Linked DNA regions of Homo sapiens. The protein of the gene in region 2 interacts with the protein of the main gene of each other region in a pairwise test. Each region holds a gene or a part of one and is shown on either strand. Other genes may lie near its edges. The genes, in order: NME7 and CFAP141.

Evidence for each region.
Region 1: the proteins of CFAP141 (region 2) and NME7 interact in binary tests that used the Homo sapiens proteins (3 or more experiments, as listed by UniProt).

Annotation. Positions count from the first base shown.
Region 1 is NC_000001.11:169,294,550-169,298,580, forward strand, and holds part of NME7 (nucleoside diphosphate kinase homolog 7), read right to left. Parts: coding exon 4,007-4,031; intron 1-4,006. UniProt on the Homo sapiens protein: Possesses an intrinsic kinase activity. Displays 3'-5' exonuclease activity with a preference for single-stranded DNA. Does not seem to have nucleoside diphosphate kinase activity.
Region 2 is NC_000001.11:154,198,585-154,200,959, forward strand, and holds the end of CFAP141 (cilia- and flagella-associated protein 141), read right to left. Parts: intron 2,005-2,375; coding exon 1,875-2,004; intron 945-1,874; coding exon 843-944; 3' UTR 501-842; downstream 1-500. UniProt on the Homo sapiens protein: Microtubule inner protein (MIP) part of the dynein-decorated doublet microtubules (DMTs) in cilia axoneme, which is required for motile cilia beating.

The DNA.
Region 1 (4,031 bases), about 15 Mb from region 2:
TGTGATGTTTTTCAATTTTTTAAGACCTGTGGTCTTTGCTTCTTCACATAAGCTCATTTTCCAGCTACAATATTTTTCCTTAATTCCTAGAGCCACCTAACATAATGTCAACAACACTCACTCTTCCCCAGACAAGGGTAAAAAAATATATATCCTAAAGGGTTCATACAAATAATAGGATATTTCAGGAACTAATGGCAGAAAGAGGTTAAAAAAATTAAATGCACAAAATATAAACGAATATGTTTAAGACATTTCTTTAGGTGAAATGGCAATGGTAGCTGCTCTGGATTGGATGTTTGTTCCTTCCAAATCTCACGTTGAAATTTGATCCCCAATGTTGGAGATAGGGCCTAATGGGAGGTTTGGATAGTAGGGGTAAATCCCATGAATAGATTAATGCCCTCCCTCCAAGGTGAGCGAATTTTCCCTCTATTAGTTCCTCTGAAAGCTGGTTGTTAAAAACAGCCTGACACCTCTCCCGGTGGCTTGCTTCTTCTCTTACCATGTGATCTGTGCACACGCAGGCTCCCTTTTACCTTCCACCTCAGGCAGTGGAAGCTGCCTGAGACCCTCACGAGATGCAGATGCCCAATCTTGATGTCCCAGCCATCAGGACTATGAGCCAAATAAACCTTTTTCCTTTATAAATGACCCAGCCTCAGGTATTCCTTCACAGCAACACAAAATGGACTGAGACAGTAGCTAACTTAACAAAAGTTGCTCCACTACAAGATATGCTAAAATCTAACAAGTATATTTATGCTCAAATTTATTAAATAATCTAGTAGAAATAAAAAAGAAATGGATGGCATAAGGTGGTAATAGGGTGAAATAGGCAGGAAATATCAGTAAACATGGTAGTGACTTTCAGTTCAGCCTCAATTATTTCCTTCATTAATTAGATATGTTTATTATTTTTATAATGCTTTAAAATATGATTGGAAATTTAACTATACAAAACAATACCACATTTACAATAAATGTCTACTACTAAGATATGGTCAAAGACTATAATTGCTCTCTTGCATGTATCTTTAACTTCCTTAACACTTCCGTCACATTTGTTTCACAAAACCACAGCCATGGTTAAAAGCCAGCTCTCCACCTACTCCTTACCTTCAGCCATGCAGTTGAACAGGCTGGAGAACCACACTCATAGTTCATGGCCATGAACACTACATGGGCCATTAATTCAGTATAGCAATCACACACCACATTTCCCTGATCTATTCCTTTTCCAGATCACCATTTCACATATTCTTCTCTCCCTTCAGACCAACCAATACCTTATACCTCATCCTCACTTTCAGCTGTTTTGATCTTGCTTCCTACTTAAGAATCAGCATCTGTGTTCACATATTCTCCCTTCCCATCTGTTGCTATAGACGAGTACCTGAGAGGCACACCTGCCTAATCTCTCCACCTGGGTTCTAATTTCCATTTCCTTTTGCCTAATTAATGAAATTGCTCCAACAAGTCTTCCTCTTTTTCCTACATCATCAATTTTTTACCCAATACCTCTCCTCTTAAAAAAAATTGATACTACTTTTCTTGACAGCTACCACCTCATCTCTTTGCAGGAAAACTCCTCAAAAAAACTCCTCAAAAAAAAAGTTGTCTATATTCACTAACTACAATTCCCGTCCCACAATTTTCTTTTAAGTCTACTCCACACAGGGTTTTGCCTCCACCTCCCCATCAACATTCACCTTACAAAGTTCACCAATGATATCCACATTGCAAAATTTAACAATCCATTCTTAGTCCTCTTCTTACTTGCCTTATTTGACACCACTGGTCATTCTCTCATTTTAGAATATTTGATTCACTTGGCCTCCAGGACATAATTATCTCTCAGTTTTTCCTCTTACCTCTCTGGTGGCTCCTCTTCAACCTCCTTTGCTGCCTTCTTCTCCTTACCTTTTATCAAGATGTAGCTTCATCTTTGGTCCTCTTTACTTCTCTATCTATACCTTCTCCTTGGTAATCTCAACCAGTCTCCCGGCTTTAAATACCATTTATGTGCTGATAACTCTAAGCTGTCACACTAATTTTTTTCATCAGTCTAATTGGAAAACTAACAAACAGGTTAAGTTTATAAATGTCCAAAACGTTAACTCCTGATTGTCCATTCATTCTGACTCTAGCCACAGTTTTCCTCATTTCAGTTTACGTAAATTCTATCCTTCTGATAATCAGGCTAAGAACTTTGGAGTAATACTTGGTATCTTTTTCTCATACTCTACATTCAATCTAGCAGAAAATCTTGTTTATTTGACCTTCAACCGTTAATATATATTTTAAAATATATTTGTATACTTCTTTCATTATTACCACCCAGGTCCAAGCCATCATCTCACTGGGTTATTCCAACAGACTCCTGATTAGGCTCCCTGTTGCTGTTTTTGCCCTCTATAGTCATTCTTTTTTTTTTCCCCCGAGATGGAGTCTCACTCTGTCACCCAGGCTAGAGCACAGTGGCATGATCTCAGTTCACTGCAACCTCCACCTCCCTGGTTCAAGCAATTCTCCCACCTTAGCCTCTGGAGTAGCTGGGATTACAGGTGGGCGCCACCACACCCAGCTAATTTTTGTATTTTTAGTAGAAACAGGGTTTTACCATATTGGCCAGGCTGGTCTCGAACTCCTGGCCTCAAATGATCTGCCCGCCTTGGCCTCCCAAAGTGCTGGGATTACAGGTGTGAGCCACCACTCCCAGCCTCTATAGTCATTCTTAATGCAACAGCCAGAATGATCCTTTTAAATGGCAAGTGGAAGATATCAGTCCTTTGTTCAAAACCCTAAAATGGCTCTCTATTTTTTCAGAGAAAAATCTAAAAGTACTACTACGGCCTATAAGACCATATAATCTTTCCCCTAATTACCTCTGTAACCTCATCACCCTCTTCCTCCCTCTCTCATTCCTATCCAACCACACTGTCCTCTTTGCTGTTAGTTGACCATTCCAGACAGAAATATGCTATTCAAGGAATAGCGAGATGGTTAGTGTGCCTGGAACACAATGATTAAGATAGAGATTGATCAAAGATACAGTTAGAGATAGATATGGGCCAGACTAGATAGAGCATTGGAGGCCACAATAAAGACTTTAGATTTTATTCTAGAAGAGACAGAAATTCACTGAAGGGTTTTCAGCAGGTGAATGTTAATCTGATTTGTCTTTAAAAGATCACTGGGCATAGCTGATTTTACTTGGGTAAGGTAAAATTTTCATTAATTGAGTGTAAGAAAAGAGGAAAAAAGAATTTGGAGGCTATTGTAGCAGTTCTGGCAAAATATAATAGTGATTCAGACCACAATGATCAGATTCAGGGTTTATTTTGAAAGAGCTGAAGGGACTTGCTGATGAAATGGTAGGAAAAAGAAAGAAATCAATTATAAAACTGTCTAATATTGTTTCATTGCAAACACAACCAGATTAAAAACTACCTTAAGTGAGACACTTCTCACGATGCTAAAAATAAACTTACACTTCTTTAATTCAACCTCAGTATAAATCCAATAAATGCTTTATTTATATGGATTTAAAAATAAGGAGTAGAGAAACTTTCATAAACACTAGCTATATATAGGAAAATAATAGGATGTTAAGCTTGAAAGCACAGTGTTACGTCTGAATCAAAAGGAAATATCTCAAATTATATCTTCTTTTTAATATCTACTAGCCATAAACTGGTATTCTTACATGAATTCAATAATTCAAACATTTAGGAGCCTCAGTAATTTAAGTCTTGGGAACAAGAAACAGGATGAGAAGTGTTTTAATTGGAGAAAACTTACGTTGATCATGATCAGGTTACCAGTTCACAAAGGAGACACACTGAATCACTGTTTGATAGTAGGCAAGATGTCAAAGGTTTTCTCTACTACTAGAGCAGCAGCATAAATCCACCCTAAGTCACCAGTGATAGAAATGCTTTCCTTTGATATAAAACATTTAACAGAACTAGAAGAGCATTAAAATATTTTTAAAACACCTTACTCTGGCCGCAGAAGCAAAAGAATCA
Region 2 (2,375 bases):
TAAAGTGAACCCTTGTAAGTAAAGTTGTCTATGGCCTTCATATGATGCACATGGTCAATCAGTACTTTTCAGTATTTTTCAGAATTTTGAGTGCCTTTATTTTGACTGCTCTTTCCAGCCCCCTACAAATCCCACCACTCCTTATTTCCTTACAACTGTAACATTACCTGCCTGACCCCTGGAGACATTTAAGTTTGGAATCCTCTCTCTTGGCATAGGTGGGAATTCAGGCCCAGTGGAAAGAGACTTGTCCAAAGTTTCACAATAACTAGCTGACTCAAAACCCAAAATGCAGGCCTCCTCACTCAAGCACTACGGTGTCTGTAGATTAATAGCCACATTCAGAACAATTTGTCCAAATATAAATAAAAGATAAGTGAAAGTGATATCTGAGAGATGGCAAGTGAAATCCAGGAGGTTAAGATTACAGTAGCTGAAAAATAAGCACTTTTGAAACAAATCAAGATTTAGACATGAAAGAATGAGCCCAGTGGTCTAAGTTTGAGCCTTTAGGAAGTAAATTTATTTGTTATACCAAATCAGGATTCTCAACTCTCATTGTCCACCCCTCCCCACCCCTGCCCCCTTACATCAACATAGTAAATCCCACTATGACCACAAGGCGTCACTCTTGTTGTTACTGTTGTTTCATAGATTGTTTCCCAAATAGCGGCAAAGGATTAACGAGAGAGTGGAGAAGTGAGAGTGGAAGTGCTGTCTTAAGTCCCTGACAGATAGCAAGATCCAGGTATGTTTTGGGAAGGAGGTTCAAGGTGGTAGAGGTTCTAGAAGGCTAGGTTAGCAGGCATGTTGAGAATGGAAGAGCAGTGTTTTGGATGCCATCAGAATCTCTCTACATAAAAAGCTTTGCCCATCTGATTTAGTTCCTGCTGGTACTGCTGATGCTCCTTTTCAAACAGCTGGTGCAGGGCAGCTTGACGGACCTGGTGGAGAGGGCAGAATAGAGTGTGTTGTTTGCCTCTGTTTACCACCCTTTCTTATTCTTTCTTCCTAGTTGTTTTCCCATTATTTGTGTTCTCTTGGAGCTGGACTTAGCTGTGACATAAAGCTGGGTGGTAGCAGAGAGGCTGAACCAGCAGAGGGAAGCCTATCCAATTTTTTTCTCCACAGGCAAAGCCCTATGTTCAGCAAATATTTGCTGAGAACAGACCATGAAACAGGAACTCTACTAAGTAACTGGGATACAAAGATGGTTACATGGCACCAAGTGGGGACCCCGGGAGAGAGAGAGGTACCGAGAGGCAAGTGATACGCACTAAGAGGCAGTTTTTTTTGTTTTTTGTTTTTTTGAGACCAAGTCTTACGTTGTAGCCCAGGCTGGAGTGCAGTGGCACAATTTCAGCTCACTGCAACCTCTGCCCTCGTTTCAAGTGATTCTCGTGCCTCGGCCTCCCAAGTAGCTGGGATTATAGGCAAGTGCCACCATGCCCGGCCAATTTTTGTGTTTTTAGTAGAGAGGTGGTTTTGGCATGTTGGTCAAGCTGGTCTTGAACTCCTGGGCTCAAGCGATCTGCCCGTCTTGGCCCCCCAAAGTGCTGGGATTACAGGCCTGAGCCACCACACCCGATCTAAGAGGCAGTTTTGAGTCTCACCAAGATGAAAGGAGCAGGAACTAGAGTATACTTTGGGACTTTAACATGTGCCTGCCGCCTGTAAGGTGGATGCAAAGAATCACTTAATGAAAAAGAGTTTTGGCAATGGAGTTAGAGTTGTGTTGCTCTGGTGTAATGCTGAAAACCTAGAGGCAAACAAGATAAATGTGCAATGACACACACTAAGAGCTTGGAAAACTCAATGGGCAAAGGCACACAGCAGTAGTGAATGAGACTTCAGGTTGCCCTGCTAGAACTCACCATTAGTAGTTGCTTTTTGGCCAGTGCCAATTCCTGTACCATGGTGTCCTGCATCCTTAGGGTGGCATACGGGTTTCTTCTCTGGCCCAATGCCATTTGCCACAGACAGTGAGTATGTGAATTTCGCCACCTGCTCCAGGTACAGAGGTGGGGGTTGAATGGGTGGGTTAGAGTTAGGAGTAGAGACAAAAAACCCATAGAGTGAGGCTGTTTCTTTTTTCTTTTTCTTTTCTTTTTTTTTGAGACAGAGTTTCACTCTTGTTGCCCAGGCTGGTGTACAGTGGTGCAATCTTGGCTCACTGCAACCTCTGCCTCCCAGGTTCAAGTGATTCTCCTGCCTTAGCTTCCCAAGTAGCTGGGATTACAGGTGCCTGGCACCATGCCCAGCTAATTTTTTGTATTTTTAGTAGAGATAGGGTTTCACCATATTGGTCAGGCTGGTCTCGAACTCCTGACCTCAGGTGATCCACCTGCCTCGGCTTCCCAGAGTGCTGGGATTAT